Homo sapiens: one gene and its partners. The protein of the gene in region 1 purifies or fractionates together with the protein of each later gene. This does not show direct contact. Each region holds a gene or a part of one and is shown in the gene's direction. Other genes may lie near its edges. The genes, in order: KNOP1, ZCCHC17, ZNF106, NMNAT1, DDX31, SHQ1 and ZFP62.

What was found.
Region 2: the proteins of KNOP1 (region 1) and ZCCHC17 purify together in Homo sapiens (affinity purification with mass spectrometry; one large-scale study listed by BioGRID and IntAct). This does not show direct contact.
Region 3: the proteins of KNOP1 (region 1) and ZNF106 purify together in Homo sapiens (affinity purification with mass spectrometry; 2 studies listed by BioGRID and IntAct, with this or other methods). This does not show direct contact.
Region 4: the proteins of KNOP1 (region 1) and NMNAT1 purify together in Homo sapiens (affinity purification with mass spectrometry; 2 studies listed by BioGRID and IntAct, with this or other methods). This does not show direct contact.
Region 5: the proteins of KNOP1 (region 1) and DDX31 purify together in Homo sapiens (affinity purification with mass spectrometry; one large-scale study listed by BioGRID and IntAct). This does not show direct contact.
Region 6: the proteins of KNOP1 (region 1) and SHQ1 purify together in Homo sapiens (affinity purification with mass spectrometry; 2 studies listed by BioGRID and IntAct, with this or other methods). This does not show direct contact.
Region 7: the proteins of KNOP1 (region 1) and ZFP62 purify together in Homo sapiens (affinity purification with mass spectrometry; 2 studies listed by BioGRID and IntAct, with this or other methods). This does not show direct contact.

Annotation. Positions count from the first base shown.
Region 1 is NC_000016.10:19,701,437-19,704,832, reverse strand, and holds the end of KNOP1 (lysine-rich nucleolar protein 1), read left to right. Parts: 3' UTR 1-2,896; downstream 2,897-3,396.
Region 2 is NC_000001.11:31,356,032-31,359,531, forward strand, and holds part of ZCCHC17 (zinc finger CCHC domain-containing protein 17), read left to right. Parts: intron 1-3,500.
Region 3 is NC_000015.10:42,449,642-42,453,141, reverse strand, and holds part of ZNF106 (zinc finger protein 106), read left to right. Parts: intron 1-1,187; coding exon 1,188-3,371; intron 3,372-3,500. UniProt on the Homo sapiens protein: RNA-binding protein. Specifically binds to 5'-GGGGCC-3' sequence repeats in RNA. Essential for maintenance of peripheral motor neuron and skeletal muscle function.
Region 4 is NC_000001.11:9,942,197-9,946,274, forward strand, and holds the start of NMNAT1 (nicotinamide/nicotinic acid mononucleotide adenylyltransferase 1), read left to right. Parts: upstream 1-1,278; 5' UTR 1,279-1,319; exon of another isoform or gene 1,320-1,575; intron 1,576-3,816; exon of another isoform or gene 3,817-4,078. Other genes in the region: protein LZIC, read right to left, coding at 485-539.
Region 5 is NC_000009.12:132,649,484-132,652,983, reverse strand, and holds part of DDX31 (ATP-dependent DNA helicase DDX31), read left to right. Parts: intron 1-491; coding exon 492-536; intron 537-1,867; coding exon 1,868-1,909; intron 1,910-2,685; coding exon 2,686-2,750; intron 2,751-3,500. UniProt on the Homo sapiens protein: May have DNA helicase activity and RNA helicase activity. Probably have ssDNA and RNA dependent ATPase activity. Plays a role in ribosome biogenesis and TP53/p53 regulation through its interaction with NPM1.
Region 6 is NC_000003.12:72,841,946-72,845,445, reverse strand, and holds part of SHQ1 (protein SHQ1 homolog), read left to right. Parts: intron 1-1,022; coding exon 1,023-1,087; intron 1,088-3,043; coding exon 3,044-3,166; intron 3,167-3,500. UniProt on the Homo sapiens protein: Required for the quantitative accumulation of H/ACA ribonucleoproteins (RNPs), including telomerase, probably through the stabilization of DKC1, from the time of its synthesis until its association with NOP10, NHP2, and NAF1 at the nascent H/ACA RNA.
Region 7 is NC_000005.10:180,858,477-180,862,759, reverse strand, and holds the start of ZFP62 (zinc finger protein 62 homolog), read left to right. Parts: upstream 1-1,483; 5' UTR 1,484-1,540; coding exon 1,541-1,541; exon of another isoform or gene 1,542-1,650; coding exon of another isoform or gene 1,651-1,651; exon of another isoform or gene 1,652-1,686; intron 1,687-2,080; exon of another isoform or gene 2,081-2,668; coding exon of another isoform or gene 2,669-2,720; intron 2,721-4,283. UniProt on the Homo sapiens protein: May play a role in differentiating skeletal muscle.

The DNA of each region.
Region 1 (3,396 bases):
AAGGACCTACTTGGGCCACTTCCCTCAGGACGTGAACTTGTCCTGCCTTTCTTTCCTGGATTCAACCTTGAGATACATAATGGGAGAGGCCGTGGAAAGCCCAAGAGGCAGTGTTCTGGATTTGAGTGAGTGCCTTCTGGGCACCTCCTCCTTTGATGGAGAAACAAATCCCTCCTGACCTTGAGCAACACTACAGGAATGTGCCTGGTGTAAACAGGAACCAGCCGTTCGTTTCTTTTTTTTTGAGATGGAGTCTCACGGTCGCGCAGGCTGGAGTGTGGTGGCGTGATCTCGGCTCATTGTAACCTCTGCTTCCTGGGTTCAAGCGATTCTTGTGCCTCAGTCTCCTGAGTAGCTGGAATCGGCCGTTTACTACTCATAGTTTTTATCTTGCCAAGAGGTCACCCTGACGTTGGCCTGCCTTAGCTCTGTTAAAAAGGTTGTGCTCTGCCAGGTGCGGTGACTCACGCCTGTAATCCCAGCACTTTGGGAGGCCAAGGTGGGCGGATCACGAGGTCAAGAGTTCGAGACCAGCCTGACCAACATGGTGAAACCCCGTCTCTACTAAAAATACAAAAATTAGCTGGGTGGGTGTGGTGTCACGGGCTTGTAATCCCGGCTACTCAGGAGGCTGACAGGAGAATCGCTTGAACCCGGGAGGTGGAGGTTGTAGTGAGCTGGGATGGTGCCACTGCACACTCTAGCCCCGGGCAACAGAATGAGACTCTGTCTCAAAAACAAACAAAAAAAAACTGTCTTTGGGTGATTGTGGAGAGGTGATCATATGTCCGCTGTGTTGCTCCCATCCAAGCCCTGGTGACTGGTAGCTCTCATGAGGGTGTGATGGTCAGGCCTTGCCCCTGGTGTAAATTCTGTCTGTAATAGGCTGTGACTTTCTAACTCAACATCACCACTGGCTTAGGAGTTCCATTTGCACAGGGGGAGCTTTATTGCTTTTCTATATACATAAGAACTTTACGTCTCACCAGTGGAGGTTGGGCAGCCAAGACACCACAATGCTGGGTGTCTTCAGAATGGACTTAATCTTGTCCTTTTGCTTTCTGCCAGTGCAGATCACCATCTCTCAGATGAGCAGGACCCCACCCTCTGGCAGTCTTGTCTTGGGAGAATCACTCTGAGCTCCCATCCTTTGTAAATTAACATTGGTTTGAGCACCACCCTCCATCACGGCTGCAGTGAGCCATGATTGCACCACTGTGTTCCAGCCTGGGTGACAGAGCAAGACCCCATTCCAAAAAAAAAAAAAAATTTGCCAAATAGACACAGTCCTCACAAAAGAAGTTGGCAGAATAACACCCCTTCCTACCACATCTCCTCAGAACCTGTGTATTTGTTAGGTTACGAAACAAAAGGGAATTAAGTTTGCTAATCAGCTGACCTTAAAACAGGAAGAGGATCCCGTGTTTCTGGGTGGGCCGGAGGAATCACAAAGATCCCTAAATGTGGAAGAGGAAGGCAAAAAAGAGTCCACATCAAAGAGACTTAAGAAAGACTTGACTAGACACTGCTGGTTTTGAAGATGGGAAGGGAAGGGTCAGAAGCCAAGGAATGTGTGTGCTGTCTAGAAGCTGGAAAAGGCAAGGAAGTAGATTCTCCCCTAGAGCCTCCCAGAAGGAGCGTAGCCCTGCTGATGCCTTAATTTTAGCTCAGTGAGACCAGGCGGACTTAAGACCTATAGAACCGTCAGATGACAACATTATGTTTTAAGCCGCTACAATTGTGGCAATTTGTTAAAGTAACAATAGAAGACCTAATGTAAGTAAGTCTCATGTGGAAGTTGCCATGGTTTTGTTTTTCTTTCTTTTTTTTTTTTTGAGACAGTCTCACTCTCACTCCACGCCCAGGCTGGAGTGCAGAGGCGTGATCTCAGCTCACTGCAACCTCCACCTCCAGGGTTCAAGCGATTCTCCTGCCTCAGCCTCCTGAGAAGCTGGGATTACAGGTGAGCACCACCACACCCAGCTAATTTTTTTTTGTATTTTTAGTAGAGATGGAGTTTCACCATGTTGGCCAGGATGGTCTTGATCTCTTGGCCTCATGATCCACCTACCTCAGCCTCCCAAAGTGTTGGTATTACAGGCATGAGCCACCGCACCCAGGCCCCATCATTTTTATTTTCTACAATTCTGGCTGACATCTTATTGCTCCATCCTTGCTAATGATAGACTTCATCTCACATAGACCAGTGTTTTCAGAGACCGGCTTATTGATTCAGTAAAGGGCTGGGGGAAACTGCACACACAAGGACATATAAAATCTAAGCCTCTGCCTGGGCCACATGACAGGATTCAGAAGCACCTTTGATATAATGGGTGCCCGACCTCATGTGAAAGTCCAAGTTCAGGTGTAATGTGAGAGCGGTAAGAATTCACTGGCCTAGGCTTGGGAACTAATGCTGCCCACCACGTTCAGCCTCAGAGGAGAAGAAATGACTTGAAGAACATAATTTGTGAATTTGCCAATTGTTTTTCATTTTATAGCATCACACAGTAAAAGTAGATAAAATAATTTTAATGAAAATACTTCTGTGGGCCAGGTGCGGTGGCTTACGCCTGTAATCCCAGCACTTTGGGAGGCCGAGGCGGCGGATCACCTGAGGTCAGGAGTTCTAGACCAGCCTGACCAACATGGAGAAACCCCATCTCTACTAAAAATACAAAATTAGCTGGGTGTGGTGGCGCACTCCTGTTATCCCAGCTACTCAGGAGGCTGAGGCAGGAGAATTGCTTAGACTCGGGAGGCGGAGGTTGGGGTGAGCCGAGATCACGCCATTGTACTCCAGCCTGGGCAACAAGAGTGAAACTGTCTCAAAAAAAAGAAAAAAAAACAGAATTTTGTGAAATAAAGGCCACTTGGGAGTATCTGAGCCACCCCACAATGCTGTCTGAGTTTCTGTATGATTTAGTAGAGGGGAGGGAAAGAAGCATTCATTAGTGTCTGCTGTCCTTTAATTTTTTTTGAGATGAGATGATATTTTGCTCTTGTCACTCAGGCTGGAGTGCAGTGACGCAATCTCGGCTCACTGCAACCTCCGCCTCCTGGGTTCAAGCGATTCTCCTGCCTCAGCCTCCCAAGTAGCTGGGATTACAGGTGTGTGCCACCACGCCTGGCTAATTTTTGTATTGTTAGTAGAGACGGGGTTTCACCATGTTGGCCAGGCTGGTCTCGAATTCCTGACCTCAGGTGATCTGCCTGCCTCAGCCTCCCAAAGTGCTGGGATTACAGGCGTGAATCACCGTGCCCGGCCAATAAATTGATTTAAAAAAATTTTTTAGCCCCTTTTACTGTCTGAGGTTAACTGAGTGTTCAACTGTAGTCTTGTATTTCTCAGAGTAAAGATGAAATGTAATCTATGTCCAGTTCCAGTGTGGATCT
Region 2 (3,500 bases), on another chromosome or scaffold:
CCTGAGTTGGACAGTGGAGAGTAGGAATGCCTGGCGTGTGGAAGGGCATATATGATAGTAACTCATGTAAGTTCAGTTAATGCATTTCTAACAGTTAAAAAAGTAACTCATGAAATAAAGATCATATGGTACCTACACTCAAGCGGCTAATCATATAAGGAGAAAGATAAGCAGCCAAGCTATGTATGGTGGTAAAGGATAGAAACACATTCCAAGGAGGTTATTTGATTTTATGGACATCCAAGGACAGGAAATGCAGTGTAGTCAGGCCACCTAGGACTAGAACTGGAAAGTCTCATTAGGTTCTCATCTCCGTTTCTTCACAAGTCTGTTTCATTACCTCACTTTTTATAGTCTAGTGGAAGACAATGCAAAGCCTCTAAGAAGACAGAAAATGGTAGACCTGTTGAGGAACCACCAGAAATAGCCCAGGATAAGGAAAGGATGTCACCTTTTACAAATAATGCCTGGTACTTAATAGGAATACATGCACTAACTACCTGTGAATAGATAGACTTCATAATCTGTGCTCTCTGTCATTCCTTGGGTGTCTTCACTCAGTGAAACCTGCCCTCAGATTGCAGAGTAATAGGTATTGACTCCTGCTGCTGGCAGTGGGCGATAATGAAAGGAGCAGGGGCAGGAGTAAGAATAACAGATCTTCCTAACCTTGAGCCTTCCCACGTCTTTTCATTAAAACATACATGTATTGAATGCCTTTTCCCACAAGTCCAGGATGCATTGATTTAGTTGTGTGCATCTGGCACCATGAACAATTTTTGTCCCAGTGACTGAATGTTATAAATAATTTTTGTTGGGCATAATTAGAATAAAAGGAAACTGTGTGTTGCAATTGGAAATGGGCTATGAAGTGGTTGGTAAAATAGGAATGGAGGTTTTGTAGTGAATCCCTGGATAATCTTCTGATGAACTTGTGGTCTGTGCTTTACTGGCCTCTTTCATTAATCATATGCCATCGTAGGTCTTTCTGAATCGGTGTTATGTTATGAAGAAGTAAGTGCCTTGGGGACCAAGCTGCCCACTGATTATAGTAAACTTTAGATATGTTTGATTCAGAATATAATTTTCTTTTGATTTTACCATATGATTTTCTGCTGTACCATATATAGAAGAACAAGAAATAGGAATGTCATTCTTTGGCTGCAGTGTTGGCTCTGTCCTGCTGTCCAGAGAACTTCTTCTGGTGCCTATATAGAGAAAGGTTGCCAGTCCTGAGCCCACTCAGGGACACATTCTCTGCCTATTCAGATACAGCAGAGAGCGTTGCCCAGTGTTGCCTACTCAGAAGCCTTCAGTGGTTCGCTTTCTTCTATGACATAAAGTCTAAGTTCCTTTAAGACTCTTCACAATCTGCCCAGCTTCCTAGCATCATTTCCCACCAGTCTCTTCCCACACACTATACTCCAGCTTCATTCATTAATAGAGCTTCTACTGTGTGCTAAGCTCTGTTCTGGCCATTGCAGGTAAAGTAGTGAACAAAACAGGTAAAATCCCTATCTTCATGGCACTTAGATTCTAATGGATGGGGTCGATTGACACAGATAATAAACTGGTAAACAAATACAAAATAGTAAAAATAATGTATCAAGTAGTGATAAGTGCTATAGAGAAAAATTAATTTGATTAAGGGAGATAGGGAGTCCTAGAATGAGGATGTGGGGAGCAGGTGACTTTCATTTTAGATAGGATGGTAAGGCCAGGCCTTTCTTTTTTTTTTTTTGAGACGGAGTTTCACTCTTGTTGCCCAGGCTGGAGTGCAATGGTGCGATCTCAGCTCACTGCAACCTCTGCCTCCTGGGTTCAAGCAATTCTTATGCCTCAGCCTCCCGAGTAGCTGGGATTACAGGCATGCACCACCACGCCCAGCTGATTTTCTATTTTTAGTAGAGACGGGTTTCTCCATGTTGTTCAGGCTGGTCTTGAACTCCCGACCTCGGGTGATCCACACACCTCGGCCTCCCAAAATGCTGGGATTACAGGCGTGAGCCACCGCGCCTGGCCTGGGCCAGGCCTTTCTCATAAAGTGTTGTTTGAGTGGATATCAGAAGGAAGTGAGGACACAAGCTATTCAGGTAAGTGGAGAGAGAGCATTTCAGCAAATGTAACAGCTGATGTTGGGAAAGAGTGTGGCATGATTAAAGAACATTAAGGACGCCAGTGTGGCTACAGTGAAATGAATGAAAAGAGAGTGGTAGGAGAGGAAGTTAGATCAGAAGGAACCCAGATCACTGGGGCCTTATAGGTGATTGGGAGGATTTCATCTTTCACTTGAGTGAGATGGATGTTATTAGAGGTTTTGAGCAGAGGAATGACATGATCTGACTTCCTTTTAAGAGAATTATTCTGGCTGCTATGTAGAAACTTAGATGGTCAGAAAGCAAGAGTAGAAGCAGTGAGTTGATAGATAATCCAGATGATGGTGGCTTGGACTAGAATGACAGTGGCAAAAATGATGAGAAAGGAGTTGAAGTGTGTATATATTTTGAAGATATAAGAGCAGGTGAGGATGGCATCAAAATTTTTGGACTGTGTAACTGGAAGATTTGAGTTAAGAGAAGGAATGCAGGAGAAGTAAGTGTGGGAGTAGGGAGCAGTCAGGAGTTTAGTTTGAGTTGCTGTCTACACAGATGGAAAGATAGCTGGGAGAGTCTAGGTTTGGGAGGGGGCGGGGCATAGAAATTGAGTTGCCTATCAGATATTCAAGTAGACCATAGAGTAGACAGTGGATATATAGTTTGGAGTTCAAGGGAGAGGCCCAGGTAAGATATATAAATTTGGGAGTCATCTACATATAGATGGTATTTATGTTCATGAGATCACCTGCAGAGTAAATATAGGGAAGAGACTGAGCCCCAGAGTGCTCAACACTTAGAGGTTATGGAGATGAGGATGAACTAACAAAGAAGACAGGAAAGGAACAGCCAAGGAAGTTTGTAGAAAAGTAAGAGAATGTAAAATGTGGTAGAAATACCATGAATGTGTTCTAGGTAAGATGGTCTGTATCCATCTTGACTGACCAAGTAAATAAGACCCAATAATTGACCACTAGATTTGGCCACGTGGAGGTTACTGGTAATTTTGTTTGTTTGTTTTTGTAGAGACAGGGTCTCACTATGTTTTCCAGGCTGGTCTTGAACTCCTAGGCTCAAGAGATCCACCTGCCTTTAGAAAATTAAGTACTGGCTGGGTGTGGTGGCTCATGCCTGTAATCCCAGCACTTTGGGAGGATGAGGCAGGTGGATCACTTGAGGTCAGGAGTTTGAGACCAGCCTGGCTAATATGGTGAAACCCCGACTCTAGTTAAAAAAAAATACAAAACTTAGCTGGGTGTGGTGGCATGCGCCTGTAGTCCCAGCTACTTGGGACTACAAGCGATTCAAGGAGAATTGCCTGAACCCAGGAGCCAGATGCTCCAGTGAGCCGAGATCACACCACTGCACTCCAGCCTGAGTGACAAAGCAAGACTCCATCCTAAAAAT
Region 3 (3,500 bases), on another chromosome or scaffold:
AAAGTGTTTATTAATAAAAATAACCATGCAAAGTATCATCTTATTTAAAATAGGTTAAGAAATGGAGTTTTTCAGAAAGAACCTACAACTGGAAAAATCATGGTATTAAGGGCAGCTGAACATAAAATTGTACTAAATATGATAACTAGGCCGGGCGCAGTGGCTCAAGCCTGTACCCCTGTAATCCCAGCACTTTGGGAGGCCGCGGTGGGTGGATTACCTGAGGTCAGGAGTTTGAGATCAGCCTGGCCAACATGGTGAAACCCCGTCTCTACTAAAAATACAAAAATTAGCCGGGTGTGGTGGCGCATGCCTGTAATCCCAGCTAGTCGGGAGTCTGAGGCAGGAGAATTGCTTGAGCCTGGGAGACAGAGGTTGCAGTGACCTGAGATTGTGCCACTGCACTCCACCCTGGCCAACAGTGCAAGACTCTGTCTCAAAAAAAAAAAAAAAAAAAAAAGATAACTATAGCTATAAAATATACTTGTTCTTTTTCCAAAAAACCTGCATAATACAAAAATAATAATTGGATGATAGGGACAAAATCTCAGAACATGCCAAGAAAAACAAGACCAAGAAAGGGAGGGAATATAAATGTGCCAAATTTTTGTTTGTTTTTTTGAGAGAGTCTCACTGTGTTACCCAGGCTGGAGTGTAATGGCATAATCTCAGCTCACTGCAACCTCCACCTCCTGGGTTCAAGTGATTCTCATTCCTCAGCCTCCCGAGTAGCTGGGGTTACAGGCGTGCTCCACTACGCCTGGCTAATTTTTGTATTTTTAGTAGAGATGGGGTTTCTCCATGTCGGCCATGTTGGTCTTGAATTCCTGACCTAAAGTGAACTGCCCGCCTCGGCCTCCCAAAGTGCTGGAATTATAGATGTGAGCCACCACACCTGGCCAAATGTGCCAAATTTTTAATATTTCTGAGTGATGGGGGAGATGGTTGTAATTACTTGAAATTTAAGTAATTTAAAATGTTTTATTTTTAAATTAATAAGTTGAGGAATATACGTTTAAATATATCATTTAAAGATATGAAAACAACCACTATTAGATATAAAACCAGACTCGGTTACATATTCTAAGTAACGGGAGGAAAGTACAAGGGAAGTTTGGTGGGTTATGCCTTTCAAGGTAGCATAGGAATTCCTTTAAATCGCTAATGAAAAACTGTTTTTCTTCCAGACAAGATGAACCTTCCAATAGCAACCAAGAAATAAACTCTGATGACAGACGACCCCAATGGAGACGAGAAGACCGAATTCCTTACCAAGACAGAGAGAGTTACAGTCAGCCTGCATGGCATCATCGTGGACCTCCACAGCGGGATTGGAAATGGGAAAAAGATGGCTTTAATAATACTAGGAAAAACAGCTTTCCACATTCTTTGAGGAATGGTGGTGGACCAAGAGGACGTTCCGGGTGGCATAAGGGTGTTGCAGGAGGCTCCTCGACTTGGTTTCACAACCATAGTAATTCTGGAGGTGGTTGGCTTTCAAATAGTGGAGCAGTAGATTGGAATCATAATGGTACAGGAAGGAATTCCAGTTGGCTTTCTGAAGGAACAGGTGGCTTTTCCAGTTGGCATATGAACAACAGTAACGGAAACTGGAAATCCAGTGTACGTAGTACAAATAATTGGAATTACAGTGGCCCTGGAGACAAATTTCAACCAGGCAGAAACAGAAATTCTAACTGTCAAATGGAAGACATGACTATGCTATGGAACAAGAAATCTAATAAGTCAAACAAATACAGTCACGACAGATATAATTGGCAGCGGCAAGAAAATGACAAACTTGGTACAGTTGCCACATATAGAGGTCCTTCTGAAGGATTTACAAGTGATAAATTTCCTTCAGAAGGCTTACTCGACTTCAATTTTGAGCAGCTGGAAAGCCAAACCACTAAACAAGCAGACACTGCTACTTCCAAAGTTAGTGGAAAGAATGGCAGTGCGGCAAGGGAAAAGCCTCGTCGCTGGACGCCTTACCCTTCTCAGAAGACTCTGGATTTACAGTCGGGATTGAAAGACATCACTGGTAACAAGTCAGAAATGATAGAGAAACCTCTCTTTGATTTTAGCTTGATAACTACAGGAATACAGGAGCCCCAAACTGATGAAACACGTAATTCCCCAACACAGAAAACACAAAAAGAAATACATACTGGATCTCTTAATCACAAGGCCTCTTCTGATTCCGCTGCTTCCTTCGAGGTGGTGAGACAGTGCCCCACTGCAGAAAAACCTGAACAAGAGCATACACCAAATAAAATGCCATCATTGAAATCCCCACTCCTTCCATGTCCAGCCACTAAATCATTGTCTCAAAAGCAAGATCCAAAGAATATCTCAAAAAACACCAAAACAAATTTTTTTTCCCCTGGAGAACACTCAAATCCCTCGAACAAGCCCACTGTGGAAGATAACCATGGTCCTTACATATCCAAACTGCGTAGTTCATGTCCTCATGTTTTAAAAGGGAATAAAAGTACATTTGGCTCTCAAAAGCAATCTGGTGATAATTTAAATGATACTTTACGAAAGGCCAAAGAGGTGCTACAGTGTCATGAGTCATTGCAAAATCCACTTCTTAGCACTTCTAAAAGTACCAGGAACTATGCAAAAGCAAGTAGAAATGTAGAAGAATCTGAAAAAGGGTCTTTGAAAATTGAGTTTCAAGTGCACGCACTAGAAGATGAAAGTGATGGAGAGACATCTGACACGGAAAAGCATGGAACAAAAATTGGAACCCTAGGTTCTGCAACTACAGAATTGTTATCTGGCAGCACTCGAACTGCTGATGAGAAAGAGGAGGATGACCGCATCCTGAAGACTTCTAGAGAGCTATCCACTTCCCCATGTAATCCCATAGTTCGCCAGAAAGAATCTGAATTACAAATGACATCTGCAGCCAGTCCACACCCTGGCTTATTGCTAGACTTGAAAACCTCTCTAGAAGATGCACAGGTTGATGACTCTATTAAATCTCATGTATCTTATGAAACAGAAGGCTTTGAGAGTGCTAGCTTGGATGCAGAGCTTCAAAAAAGTGACATCAGTCAGCCCTCGGGCCCTCTCCTGCCTGAACTAAGTAAGCTTGGCTTTCCTGCCTCACTTCAGAGGGATCTAACCCGGCACATTAGTTTGAAGAGCAAAACTGGAGTACACCTTCCTGAGCCAAACCTCAATAGTGCCCGCCGCATTCGCAATATTAGCGGTCACCGAAAGAGTGAGACAGAGAAGGAGTCTGGGCTCAAGCCAACCCTACGGCAGATTCTAAATGCATCTCGGAGAAATGTCAACTGGGAACAGGTCATTCAGCAAGTAACCAAGAAAAAGCAAGAGCTGGGCAAAGGCTTACCCAGGTGTGTGCTGCTTTTCGGTGTCTTTTTTTTCCTCACTTTCTTTTAAAGTAACCCTTTGACCCTGATCAAGAGAATTCTACGTGTTTCATTTAATTAAATGTTTGCCAACAATATCTGTTGTAGATGTCT
Region 4 (4,078 bases), on another chromosome or scaffold:
GTGAGTCACCGCGCCCAGCTCAAATCTTATTCTCTATTTAGCACTTATTTCTGCCTTTAATTATATATGATTTTATTATAATACGTTATCTCCTCTGACTAAACTCTGGAGAACAGAATATGAGTCTGATTCCTCTCTCAGCTTTCTCAGTACCTAATACAGAATAGAACGTCGATAATTTGGTCACGTATATAAAGGCTCAACATATTTTAAGGAGCTAAAGCTATTCTGAATACATTTCAGTAAAAATGGGTGCATTTTAAAAGCCTTAACCTGGTACTACATTAGTTGAGATTTATCCCCGAAAGATTAACTCGTTGGCACCACCTAGTAGTCACTAAATGTGGTGCACTTTTCACTTTTACGAAACTACAGAAACCGCTCTCAGACACTATATCTGGAGCGGAGGGTCCTCATTCATGCTCACCTGTCTCTTAGTACTCTGATCTCTGCACAGTGCCGACCGGTCTCAAATTGCACAAACCTCCAGTTCTTGACGTTCCGAGTGTCATAAACTTGAGGAAAATGAAATTATTCATCAGGACTACAAAAGGCTCAAAGTTCAAACCACCTCGGGGTGGAGATGCTGGAAAAAAGGAAACCATTAACAAGTAATTTTATTTGCTATATATAAACTTGCCCTAAGGCAGTCCAGATAACTTCCACTTGAGCAGCCTGAGACATCAAGGGCGGGGGCACTTTCCCCCTCGACTGCGCCTACCGCAGCCTTTCTGAGTTTCTTCCTAGCGAGGCCGAGAGGGTCTTTGAGGAAAATCCCGCATCCGGACACGCCTTGAGGGATGGCGTCAAACCCAGAGGCTTGGAAAAGGTAAGGGCGGAGAGCACGCCTCTTCCTTGAAAGTGAGGAGGGTTTGGCCCAGAACCAACAGGACTGGGTGAAGAATCAGCTCCGGCCACCGCAGCAAATCCCACCCCACGCGGGAACTTGAAGTCCGGCACGTAGGTCCCGCGGCGGCCGGGCTCCAACAGGCCCCAATTGCCACCAGAGGTAGCCGTAAACCCATGGTCCCCGAAACTCCTTCCGGGCCTACCTGACAAAAACTGGGACAACCTCCTTAGGCCCCCGGGATTCCCCCTGTGCCGCCTGACCGCCCGCCAGTCCCAGAGTTTAGGGCCAGGGGCCCCGCCTACCTGAGGGCACTGGCCTGGCGGACCGCGCCGGGGGAGCACTTCCGCTGGACGCACGCACTTCCGGCCCCCTGGAACCAATGAGAGTGCGACCGAGATGTTCCACTCGCTGGCGTCCGGGCCGCTGGTGATCTCCGGTAGCACTCGGGCCGGCGGACAGTGAGGGCGCGGTAAGCTCCCCGCAAGGAGCCCCTGAGAAACTGGTCGCTTTTTGTCCTAGATATAGGGGAGTCCAGGATGGTGTGGTGGAGTCTTTAGAGTCGAATATGACCCGAGGCAAGCTCATATTCAGGTTTGGGGCAAGGAGCTTTGATTGACCCTTAATTTTTTCAGTGGAACGGAAAACTTCGGTAAAATAGCTTCTGACCTTCGGAACAGATGGATTCACCTTGGAAAGGAAAAATCTCTTTCTAGAAGAGTCTTGAGGTCTGGCACCTTTAGGCTTAACGGGGGACGGCTGGGCGTCAGAGGAGGAAATCCTTCATTCCGAACGACTTCCCTTTCCTCCTAAATCCTTCTTTCCAAATCTGTAAAAGACTACATCTACTTTGCTGGAGGTGGTTTGACACTCATGCTCCTTGAGAAGGAGGTAATGAGCTGTAGGGCAGCTCTTAAAAAGTTACCCTTGGACGGGCGCGGTGGCTCACGCCTGTAATCCCAGCACTTTGGGAGGCCGAGGCAGGCGGATCACGAGGTCAGGAGTTCGAGACCAGCCTGGCCAACATAGTGAAACCCCGTCTCTACTAAAAATACAAAAAATTAGCTGGGCGTGGTGGTGGGCGCCTGTAATCTCAGCTACTCGGGAGGCTGAGGCAGGAGAATCGCTTGAATCCTGGAGGCGGAGGTTACAGTGAGCCGAGATCGCGCCATTGCACTCCAGCCGGGGCGACAGTTCGAGACTCCATCTCAAAAATAAAAATAAAAAAAAGTTACCCTTGGCTGTCGCGGTGTGACACCTGTAAACCCAGCACTTTGAGAGCCCGCGGTGGGAGGATCATTTGAGCCCAGGCTGGGCAACATAGCAAGACCCTCATAACAAAAAATTAAAAATAAAATTACCCAGAAACTGGTTGGAACTATTTAATGATGTTCTTAGTCCATCTTCCTGAAGTAGTCCACAGAACAACATCAGTGTTCATGGTAGAATTGTTTCATCAGGGCAGTTTTTTTTTAAGTAACAATGTCTTGTTAAAAAACAAGAGCTGTGTTGCCCAGGCTGGAGTGCAGTGGTGTGATCATAGCTCACTGCAGCCTTGAACTCCTGGGCTCAAGCGATCCTCTGGCCTTGGCCCCTCAAAGTGTTGTGGTGATTGGCACAAGCCACCGACAGGCCTGGAGTCTGAAGTTAGTTATATTTCAGCTACCCAGGATAAACTTCTAACTATGATTACCACAGAACTCTACCAAAACTAATTGTTTCACTTAGTTCTGTCTGATTATGGAATCTCTTTATTACCATCAGTTGTTTTTCAGAGTTACAATTTGAATATGAAACCATTTTTCTAGCCCACCTTAGAGAAGACTGTTGACACACTAGTTGAAATGGTTGCAATAGCCTCTACCTTGCAAGACACTTCAGATTCAAAGAATTTCCTTTGCAAAAGTCGGCCGGGTGCAGTGGCTCATGCCTGTAATCCCAGCACTTTGGGAGGCCAAGGCGGGCAGATCACTTAAGGTCAGGAATTCAAAACCAGCCCGGCCAACATGGTGAAACCCCATCTCTACTAAAAATACAAAAATTAACCAGGCGTGGTGGTCCATGCCTGTAATCTTAGCTACTCAGGAGGCTGAGGCATGAGAATCGCTTGAACTCAGGAGGTGAATGCTGCAGTGAGCCAAGATCACGACGCTGCACTGCAGCCTGGGTGACAGAGCAACTCCGTCTTAAAAAAACAAAACAAAACAAAACAAAAGAAGAAAAAAATAAAAGTACCTATTAATGCAATTATCTTTCAATTTTGATTCATAAATATGTGTGGAAGTGTCAATGTTTTGGGTAAAATGGAATTCACAGTGACAGAGTCAGTGCCATACAAAACAAAACTGGAAAATATACTTTAAAAAAATTATTTGAGCTGGGTGTAGTGGCTCACACCTGTAATCCCAGGACTTTGGGAAGCCGAGGTGGGCGGATCACGAGGTCAGGAGTTTGAGACCAGCCTGGCCCCTATGGTGAAACCCTGTCTCTACTAAAAATACAAAAAATTAGCTGTGCATGGTGGCGTATGCCTGTAGTTCCAGCTACTCGGGAGGCTGAGGCAGGAGAATTGCTTGAACCCGGCAGGCGGAGGTTGCAGTGAGCCGAGATCGTGCTCTTCAGCCTGGGCTACAGGGTGAGACTCGGTCTCAAAAAAATAATAATAATAATTTGAAAAATTTGCTGAATAAACATTTGTTCACAGTGTACTTTCCCTGATTTTTTAATTTTTGTTTTTGTTTGCCCTGTCACCCAGACTGGAGTACAGTGACACGAGCACGGCTCACTGCAGCCTTAATCTCTCAGGCTCAAGTGATCCTTGCACCTCAGCCTCCCTAGTAGCTGGGACTTCAGGTGCATGCCACCACATCCGGCTAGTTTTTGTATTTTTTGTAGAGATGAGGTTTTGTCATGTTGCCCAGGCTGGTTTCAAACTCCTGGGCTCAAGTAATCCTCCCACCTTGGCCCCGCAAAGTGCCGGAATTACAGGCATGAGCCACCCCACCCAGCCTTCCCCTAATTTTGATAATGATAATCCAATGTTCTGTTCTGGCATTTGTGTAGTTTTAGCGTGTGCAGTCTTCGAAGCAGTGGAGGTATTTGCCTTTTCTTCTCTGTGACTTAGTCATTCAGCAGTTCTATGCTAAGGGTTTTTTTATATGCCTTTAGGTTCTTGTTTAGAGTTAATGGATAATGAAAACATTTCTAATGCATAAGAGAAATGCATTCTGA
Region 5 (3,500 bases), on another chromosome or scaffold:
GTTAGTCCATTTTTACACTGCTGATAAAAACATACCCGAGACTGGGAAGACAAAGAGGTTTAATTTGACTTACAGTTCCACATGGCTGGGGGAGGTCTCATAATCATGGCAGAGGACGAAAGACATTTCTTACATGGCAGCAGCAAGAGAGAATGAGGAAGACGCAAAAGCAGAAACCCCTGATAAACCCATCAGATCTCGTGAGACTTATTCATTATCACGAGAATAACCGGCCCCCCTGATTCAATTACCACCTCACTCCTGCCCCCCTGCCCTTCCTCCTACAACATGTGGGAATTCTGGGAGATACAATGCAAGTCGAAATTTGGGTGGGGGCACAGCCAGACCACATCAGTGGGCAACCTTATTTTGTCCCTTTCTTCATTAAGAGTGCTTCTGATGTTCTACAACCGGCCACCCCTGTGTCCTGTCCGTTTGGAGTCTGCCTTTGTTTATCCTGCTCATGGCATTTTTTTTCTGTGTGTCAACAGCGCAGTGATGGCCCCTATGCCCTGGTGCTCGTGCCAACGAGAGAGGTAAGCAGGCTCCCTTTTGGGACAAGTTTTAAGCACATGCTTTCACTAATGTCCCGTTGAATTTAAAAGTGGTTTTACCATGTTTCTCCCTACTGCACAAGCCACTGCACACCAGTTCCATTTGCCTGGAAACCATCCTTCTGGTTCTTGTCAAGGAGAAAAATTCAAGTAGTCTCTGAGAATCATAAGTATGGAAAAGTATTTTCCTATTGTCTAGAAACTAATGATACTATTAAATGTCTGTTTAATTGGGTTTTGAATTAAGTTGCTAAAAAAAAACCTACAGAAATGCAATTTTTTAGCAACTTTATTCAAAACCAAAAGCAGTTGGCTCTGAAAATGAACCTTTATTTTTTTTAAGAAGCTACTGCTACCAAAAATGTTACTTGTTCCTAAAAGTTAAACTTTTCAATATTTTTTTCTTTCTTGGTGGAAATCTCTTCTATCTGATCTATTTTATTTGCCTACAGAGGCAACTTCAGATTAGGGTATGTGGTTTCTATATCAAATGCTAATCACTTCCTTACAGAGAATTGATCACAGAGATGATTTGAAGTCAGCTTTTCATATAGCCTGCAGTCCCCTATCTCAGCTCAGTCCAATGAAGGAGCAGGCACAGAAGCTATTAAAATTTTTACAGCAGCAAACTTGCTACTTCTCGAGGATGCTTCATGAATACTAAATATGTGGAAACTGTATATACGTTCTTTAAGAACGGGATTCTGTATGAGGCATTTTTGAAGGTTGTTAATGGTTGTAGCCTACTTTAATTTTCACTTGCTTTGTTCTCAAATGGAGCTGTTGGTTTGCTTTTGTTTTATTGATATAAACTTGAGGAGCGACCATCTCCCAGGCTTCAGATATCCTGGCACAGTTGTAGAATACAGTCATCGCTCCTTGAGAGCGAAGTTCCCAGAGGCTACCCTGTTGCGTCACTATTGTGGTTTACTCTGCGTACATATTATATTCTTTCTCTTTCTAAGGAGAGTCAAATTCAGGTTACTTTGTTTCATTCTCTTACGTTTTTGTGCACCACAGACTTGAACTTCTCTGTGTGGCACTCTGGGAATTTGAGCCAGCAGAGGGAGCACAAAACACTATTTTTGTGTATGTCCAAGAAATAGAAGTGTTGTCTTTACCCTCTTTGCCCAAACTGACAGGTTGCAGAACCAGTCTAAGAACAAGGTATATTAGATTCTGTGTATAGGATTTTTTTTCTTCTTAAATCTTAACTTGAGGTCCAAGTTTGGATCCTAATCACATTAAATTGTCTTTAAAAAAAAAAAAAGGGGGATCCTGTTCATCATCTATAACTTTTAAAATTTTTACAGCTAGCTCTACAAAGCTTTGACACTGTCCAGAAACTGCTTAAGGTAAGGCAAACCATGAGTTCCATTTCATCTTGCTTGCTGACTTTGAGGAAGGATTTAATATACTACAGTCTATTCTTTATTTTCAAAGAGATAAGAATTATTTCCTTTTGCCTGGATATCTCTGCTCTCTCTAGGCAGTTTATAGGTTTTTACTGATCTAAACCTACCAATTTCTAGCTTAGCTGAATTATCAGTGACTCCTGGTGCATAAAGTCCTGCAATTTGTTCATCATAGTCACTAGCAAGCCACATACAGAAATTCACAGGTACAGCCTGATGGTGATCCAGTAGAAAGCAACTTAGCTGCAAGTAGGATTTGTTTAAGAAAGGAGAGTGAAGGCTTCAGAATCAAAGCCAGCCAGCTCACCAAATTGGATCATGAATTGATCCATCCTTTCTTTTATTAGGGGTGGAGAGTAGGGAAGGGTGTTGCTTGGGTTTTTATCTTAACCCCAAAAATGGCAGTAGACTTACTGACATGTGTTTTCAGTTCAGGCTCTGTGGGAAAAGAAAGGCAAGCTACTTGAATGATTTAAGAAGCTCACATTTCTCTCTCACTGTGGTAGAAGCTAGTTATATACCTATAATTCAAGTTACTGCTGATAGTGAACATGGGTGTAGCAATGCCTAGGAATTGTGTCTGCACAATAACACCTTATACAATGAGAAGCACCAGTTTTCTCCCATGCCTTGTTTAAGGAAAGGGAATTTGGAATCAATGTCTGATGTTAGTAAAGGGGGCTTTGCACTGACTGTGGTCTGCTGTCTTTCTGTAGCCTTTCACCTGGATTGTGCCTGGAGTGTTAATGGGAGGAGAGAAGAGAAAATCAGAAAAGGCCAGGTAGGAAGAGGTTTGTTGGTTGTTGTTTCCTTCTTGAATGTGTCCTGCCTTCCTATTCAGTAAGGCTGGGTCCTTCTAAACCTGCTGAGAGCTTTGTCTCAGGCTCTGCTTCCTAGTCCCGGTGCACAGGGACAGATTGAGTCAGTGGGGAGCGGTCACCTCTAGACGGTGCTGTTTTTTAAAATATTAAACCTACAAACAGGTTTCCTTCTGATGTTGCTAGTAACAGTGCTGTCAACTTCTTAACTCCCACCTACCCAATGCTCTATAGCATCCCTGGTTTAGTATACATCCACCTGCATGCCACTCATTTTTGTGGACATTAAGAGTTTGGGGTTTTGTTGTTTGCTTTTACAAAAACAAGATCATTCACTTATATAATGCTTTGTAACTTGCTTTTTACAACCGAATATGTTTGTTCCTTTATTAGGATTTGTAATGGGTGTCAGTTGAAAATCGTTGCAACAAGTAAATCTCAAATTGTCTTCATTCTTTTGAAAACATTTTTATTGTATTATAGCTTAATAATCAGTACTCAATAATGATGCATGTAGTCTATAACTGAGGAGTAAATATGAAACCTGAAACCTCAAAGCATTGGTTAGGATTAGACTCAGCTGTGAATAACAACAATAATAACAAATAACAGTGGCACAAACAATATACAAGTTTTATTTTTCTTTCACATTTAAGAAATCTGACAGAGCCAGTCCAAGGCTGGCCTGGTGCTCCAGTGTCGGGGACCAAGCT
Region 6 (3,500 bases), on another chromosome or scaffold:
TGGCAAATGATCTCGGCTCACTGCAACCTCCCCTTCCTGGGTTCAAGTGATTCTTCTGCCTCAGCCTCCTGACTGGCTGGGGTTACAGGTGTGCACCACTATGCCTGGCTAATTTTGTATTTTTAGTAGATATAGGGTTTCTCCATTTTGGCCATGTTGGTCTTGAACTCCTGACCTAAGGTGATCGACCCACCTCGGCCTCCCAAAGTGCTAGGATTACAGGCGTAAGCCACCACGCCCAGCCAATCACTTCATTTCTTTTAGTACAAAAGAGGGGTAAATCCCTACATAATAATGATGAGATTTGACACTTTTGCTTTCTGCTTTTTTTTTAAAGTAGTAATTTGCCTGATAAAATCAATTGGTTTTGTGTTTCTTTATTGTTTCCCATTGAGTATCCCTTATCTGTACAGATTGAGTGTCCCTTATATGAAATTTCAGATTTTCTAGAGTTTTGGAATATTTTTGCATACATAATGAGATATCTTGAGGATGGAACTCAAGTTTAAACACAAAATTTATTTGTTTTATATACACCTTATACATATAGCCAGAAGATAGTTTTATGTAATTTTTTAATACTTTTGTGTATGCAGCCAAGTTTTGACTGCTTTTTGACTGTGACTCATCACATGAGGTCAAGTGTGGAGTTTTCCACTTTGTGGTGTCATGTTGGTGCTCAAAAAGTTTCAGATTTTGGAGCATTTCAGATTTTCAGATTAGGGATACTCAACTTGTGTTATAACAATAGTGATAACTACTATTTATTATGGCTTTTCTTTTTCAGTATCTATTTTGTTGGTGACTAGGGGTATTCAAATAGAAAGATGAGTCATCTCTAATTTCTACTTTCTTGGTTGGGGAAAGAATCTAACTTAGTTTATTAAAATGTGAAAGAAATACTGAGGAACTTCTTAAAAAATGATTGATATATTTTGATGGTTAAATGTTTGCAAGTATTGATGGCCACTTATGTTACGTTATAATTTAAGGACTTCATGAGACCTGTGTTAAATCTGCAGATTAACCCTTCCTGGAAGAATTGTAGAAAATGGAAGTGAGCAAGGGTCCTATGATGCAGATAAAGGTATTGTCTTTGGAATTTTTGTTAGTTTATTTCTTGGGATTTTTCACATTATTTACATAATAATCTTACAAGATACCATGGGGACCTTTTGATGTCTTTCAAATACAATCTGTTCCTATCACTCTTTCTTGTTTCTTAGTGTCCAGTGCCTGTTATTGATGTTCCCCACCCCTCACAAGTCTTTTAAAGTATTTCACAATGTTCTTCAAAGTAAAGTTAACTGCTCCGGTTCTATTTCCTAGAGTACTTCCCCTACATTTAGTAGACATTTAAAAGTAAAAATTAGAACATGTGAAATGATTGATCATAAAAAATGTAGATGACTTATGAGCTTATGAATGGAATCTTTCTGGTATAATTTTCAAACTTGAACTTTAATAACAGGTAGGTGAGAGAGAAACTATGCATGGGTGGCATTTAAAGGCTAATTGAATTTTCTCCTCATGATTGATAAGCCCTTCATTTCAGCTAGCCATGAACCCATTTATTTTTCCTTTATAGAAGCCACTGGCTTCCTTTGTCATCGGATTTAGAACACCTTGTGTAGTCTTGTGTACTTTATTCAATGAATATTGACCTCAGTGAACTAGGCTAAGGGTAGGGTATGGGGGGGTGGGTTAAATGACAGAGATCTAACCCATAATGCAGTGTAATTAATGTGTAATGAAGTATAGTGAAACTGCCTTCCTAGGTAGTAAACCAGCTTTTAGTTATAGGTAAGTTGCATATTGAAACAAAATTATTAAATTTTTAAAGTACACAGGAGTTAAGGAAGATTGTGTATGCGGAGATATTTGGGCTGAGTTGTATTTGATATGTTGGAATTCAGTTCAGTACACTGAAAGAGGCAAAATGTTTTAAAATGTCAAAGTGCTAAATAATGTAGTAAGTTCCCAGGGAAGCCTAAATAAGATAGATAAACTCAGTCAAGGAAAGAAAAGAAGTACATAGACTTTAGGGATTTGAGTCTGCCATAGACTTTAGGGATAGATCTCCTGACATGCCAGAAAACCTTATTAAGCCATAATTGTTGTATCTAAGATTCTGTGTATTTTTAAAACTGTTGCCATTCTCCATTGGATTAGGTATTCTGATTTTTTCCTCCTTTCCCAGAAGTCTAATTAGTAACTCCTGGTTAATTCTAAGCTATTACCTTCTTAGGCCATTGATTTTTATAAGTTTTAACTTGGATTTTTAATATTATCAGTAGGTAAAGGTCATACTGTATAAGACTAAAGTATTCTGTAGCTTTCACAGATAAATAATTTTTTTTTTTTTTTTTGAGACAGAATCTCGCTCTGTTGCCCAGGCTGGAGTGCAGTGGCGCGATCTCGGCTCACAGCAACCTCTTCCTCCTGGGTTCAAGCGATTATCCTGCCTCAGCCTCCCAAGTAGCTGGGACTACAGGTGCACATGCCACCACTCCCAGCTAATTTTTGTATTTTTTAGTAGAGATGGGGTTTCACCATGTTGGCCAGGATGGTGTTGATCTCTTGACCTCATGATCCGCCTGCCTCGGCCTCCCGAAGTGCTGGTATTACAGGCGTGAGCCACCTTACCCAGCCAGATTAATAATTTTTGATAGAAATGACAGCTTCTGAAAAACCCTTGTTAAGAACCTTTTTCTATCTTGACTTGTATTCACCAAATCTATGAGGGCATAGTTTTAGAGCCTGTAAAATAGAATTATGTTTTACCAAGACATGTATTTCTCAGATATATTTGTGAAGTCTTTGACTATTTTATTTATTTATTTTTTTCTTTTAATTAAAATGATTTTATTATTATTTTCTGTAGAGATGGGGTCTTGGTATGTTGCCCAGGCTGGTCTTGAACTCCTGGGCTAAAATGATCCTCCTGCCTCAGACTGCCAGAGTATTGGGATTACTGGTGTAAGCTATTGTGCCCAGCTTTTTAAATATTTTAATCTAAGCATAAAACAAATTTATCTTTAAGGAATTTTTACCATTCGCCTGCCCAAAGAAACCCCTGGCCAGCATTTTGAGGGGCTGAACATGTTAACTGCTCTTCTGGCACCAAGAAAATCCAGGACAGCAAAACCACTTGTGGAAGAAATAGGTATGTTTATTACAGTTGGGAGGAAATTAGGATAAATAGAAATATTTGGAATGCTGTGTATTTGTAGGGGAAATGGGATATAGTGAATAGGAAATTGAAGAAAATACTTCAGGTATAAGGTGATCATGTGAAACCATATGAAAATAGCTTCTTTGGTGATATAATTAAGACATTAAAAATCCTATTGAACCAGATCACTCACATTTTTGGACCAATTGAAACAACATTTTGTGGTTGGCAAAATATTAGCATCTTGAGCTAAGATCAGAAGTATACAGTTAAGTGAGTTACGTAAAACAGGGGTCCCCAACCCTCAGGTTGCAGACCAGTACTG
Region 7 (4,283 bases), on another chromosome or scaffold:
GCTACAATGAAACGCCCATTCCCTCTACTTGAGTGAACACAGTGTCTCAGCACCCACATGTATAAAAATGAAAAATAGGCGTCGAGCTGATGCCAAACACCGGCTCACCCCAGCAATATGTAAAATTCATTCAAATAATATAAATAATTTGAGCTGTAAAACAAAATCCATCTCATTACAAGTTGTGCTTCCAAAGCACTTCACTTTTTGTCTAAGAATTAACAGTAAACATTTTGAAATATTTATATAATTTTGCTAATAATCCAGAAAATAACACTAAGAAAAAATGTAATCTACTTTCGTTACGGACATATATGCTAGGATAAACAATAAACAATAAAACAATGCATAGAACTATTTTACACTAGGATAAAATTCAATGAGGCACATAGAATGAAAATATTTTTACAGTAGAATAAAAAGCCGGTGAGGGACATAAAAGTTCAAGGAAAAAAACCCTAAAAGATGTAAAACTTATGACTGTTAAAAGTGGATAATACCAAATCTTCAGGGATTTAGATTCCATTGGATACACTTGAAAGCAATTTTGTTCTTAATATTAACAGCATGCCAAAAATATACCCTTTGCAATTATTTAAACTTAATATGAAAAATATTTAGATGTTGCTGTTTTTAAAAAAGGCTGACTATAGCCAATAACTTAGTTGTATATTTAAAAATAAGAATATAATTTGATTGCTTGTAACACAAAGGATAAATGCTTGAAGTGATGGACACGCCATTAACCCTGATATGATTATTACGCATTGCATTCCTGTCTGTATCAAGATATCTCACGTACTCGACAAATAGGGACACCTACTATGTACCCACAAACATTAATTTAAAAAAAAAAAAAAGGTCTTCAAAGTCATTTTAGGCCCTGGGTTTGGAAGCCGACACCGGCGGTGGGGTGGGCAGGGGGCGAGGTCGCTGCCAAGCTGGCGCCCCGGGTGGGAGCGTGGCCCGGTCCCAGGGACGGCTCCAGGGGCGCGCTCCCACTCCGCATCCCCAGTGCCTAACCGGGGGCGCTTCTGGTGCTGACGACCAGGAAGGGCTGGTGCTCTCGGGCCAGCCCCCAACCAGCTGAGAAGGCAATGGGTCCCCAGCCCAGCGCTGTCCTGCGCCCCTCCCGGATTCCCCCATTTCCCGCCAGGCCCCCACTTCCGGGAACGTCCCCGCACCCACACCTGGCAATGAATCACGTGTTCAGGAACCAGGTAGGCAGGTATTTACTTTATTACCTGTGCCCCTCCCCCAGCCTACCCCAGAAGCTAATGGGCACGGAAACAGAAAGCCCCGCCCACGGCCTCCTGGCCGCGCCTGGAGCGCGCGCCCTGCAGCTGGTCCTCAATAAATAGCCGAGGAGGCGCTCCCCTCCCTCCCTCCCGCCGGCGCCGTCGGCCCGGACCATCGAGTCAGTCCTCCAGCGTCCCAGAGAGGGCGCGGAAGTGCCCCAGGGCCGGCGCGGGTTCTTCCGGCCGTGCGGTCCGCGCTTTTGTCCCGCTGGCGGCCGGGTTCCCGCGGCGCCGCCACAGCCAGTACGTGAGTCCGCGGCCGCCCGCGCTCCCGCCCCCGGCCCTTGCCTGCCACGCCCTCCCCTTTTTGGCCGGGTCTTGGCTGCTCCGCGGGTCTCGGGCGGGATGTGGGAGTAAGCGTGCCCCCTCCCCGCACATGTCTCAGTGGGTGCGTTTCTGGGGAGCGGAGGGGAGGGAAGACCTCGGGCAGGCAGAGGGGTGCAGGGCGCGCCCCTGGAACAGACTGGGCTCTGTGTGGGCCACAACTGCGACGTTTGAACGGACCAGCGTCATGTTAGGTCTGCTCAACGTTCCGAGAAGGGCCAGGGCCCCGCTCCGGTGTTCCTCAACTATTCATCCCTGTTTTGGATGGGAGGGGATCCCTAAAAATTAGCGCTTCAAAATACCCACCATTTCGTGCTCCCTCTGCAGTTAAGTTTGGTACTCTAGGACTTGAGAGTGATTGCGAGGGCAGAGAGACCTCTAGGGGTGATCTGATTCGACCTTCTTCCCCTCCGCTCCACCCCACCACCTTTTTTTCTTTTTTTTTTTTGGTCGGTGAGTGATGATGATAAGCTCCCGCTGCAGGTGTGAATAGAGACCCCGGAGGTGCGTCCTAGCCCTCATCTGGGGAAGCGCACCTGCATACAGACGGGTGCACCGGGGAGGAGGCGACCTGCCGCGTGTTCCTGCAAGCAGAAAAGGAGTTAACTAGGTAGGGAGAGGAAGGTCGAAGAGTTTCTTAGACCCAGGGGACAGCCTGCGGGAACCCAGGGGTGGGACGGAAAAGATCACTGGGGAATGCCAGGGCTGGGTGTGCTGCTCTAAGACATTTAAAGTAGTTGGCCAGCAGGAGCATTTCTTTGTGAAAGCTCAAGGCTTAAAAAAAATAATAATATGAAATATGTAATATATTCATATGGCTGGGATATTAAAAATATAAAAAGTTACCAGTGAAAGATTTCTTCCCATCCCGCTTAGGTATCTTCCTAGGCCCTACCCTCTTAGGTAACCACTTTTGTTCCTTTGTATCTTTTCCGAATTTCTGCAAATACTGGCAAATATAACTAGTTAGTTCCCCCTTTTTTCACACAGGTGATAGAAATCCTTCTAACTCCTTGATTCTTTCACTTTATCTTACTGGTCTCTACATGTCAGAACACAGAAGTTGTGTTTTGTTTCGTTTTGTTTTACAGAGCTGTGGTAAGTATTGGATGGGCCATTGTTTGGATGTTTTCGATGTTCTGTCCTTTTTTAGATCTATTCGGGGGCATTTGGGTTGTCTCCAATTTGTTGTTACTTCAAACAATGGTATACTCAATACAGTGTATTAGGGTAGGGATTTTTACAGAAGAAACTAAACAGCCGTTAGAAAATTATTTTTTTACATTAACTCAACCAGTTATTGGCAGATTGTTACATATGACAAGTCGTTATCAAAATCACTGATGTAGAGTGTTTAAAGAACAAATAAGACGTAAGTAGTTCTTCCCTTCTGAGACTTGTCCCTATATTTAGTGTTACACTAGCCTAATAGACTAATTGTGTCAATGACTCCAAGCCAGTCCCTGCCGGGTTTGATTCAGAAAATCAGCCTCCCTTTTAGTATCGCCTTTGCTCACCTCCTCCCCTACGACAACTAGAAATCTCTTCTCCACTACTTGGCATGAGAATGTTCTATTTCAGTTTTTTACTTTAAGGAAAAATCACCTTTCATTCTTATTTCTATATTTAAGCAATAGAACCAACTCACGTTAATCATATACATTCCTAATATTCATAAGACAAATGCAACAGTAGCTAGAACACAAACCATATTCTCTTCTCATCTGCATATCACTTCTCTGTTCCTTAGTCCCATCTTTCCTTTGTACATTTTGCCCCTCCTAGGTACTCTTTGTTCTGGGTTGGTAAGCATTTTGTCACTTTCTCTTGTCTTGTTTCCTTTCTTTGCTCATCTCCAAATCAAAGACAGTATCCAAGGATTTAAGGTGTAGAATCCACGCGTGAACCTTGAGGTGGTAGATTGTCTTGTGGAATATGGTTGGACTCTGCAAATTGAAAGTCGTTCCGGGCTAGTTGCAGTCTGTTAATAGGAAGGGGTTTTCGGCCAGAGCAGGCCACGGCTCCTCTCTAACGAGTTGTCTCGGCTCTTGAAAAGTGGCTCCTGAGTCTCGGAGGCAGAGACAGCAAGAATGTAGGGCCGGTTCTTAACTGTTTGCATTCACTTTTCTAGGCCTTGGCGATAAAGCATGAACAAGAAGCTCGGAAGAGTGCCCAGAGGTTGTTGGTCGTATGTAGTTTGGAAGGAGTGGGTGGCGTTCTATGTCTGACGCTTTTGGCTGATGTAACCAGGCTATTAGACTCATGCTGCGTGTTGAAAACTGGTTAGAAAGGGCTTGTCCATTCAGCCTTTAGAACTTTTAAGAAATTCAGGAGTTTCTGGGTCTTTATATGGAAGAGTTGTGTTTTGGGGGTAATTCCTTACTTGTGTCATCAGGGACACATGACTTAGCTACCAAATCAGTCTTGATTGGATTATAGTGACTTACTCCTGGAACTCCAGGACTCAGTCCTGTCTTGCCTCAATCCATTCTCCCACTGCAACTAGTGTGAGTGATCTTTCTTTTTTTTTGAGACAGAGTCTCGCTCTGTCACCGAGGCTGGAGTGCAATGGCGCTATCTTGGCTCACTGCAACCTCTGCCTCCCAGGTTCAAGCGATTCTTGTGCCTCAGCCTCCCAAGTCGAGTAGCTGGAACTACAGG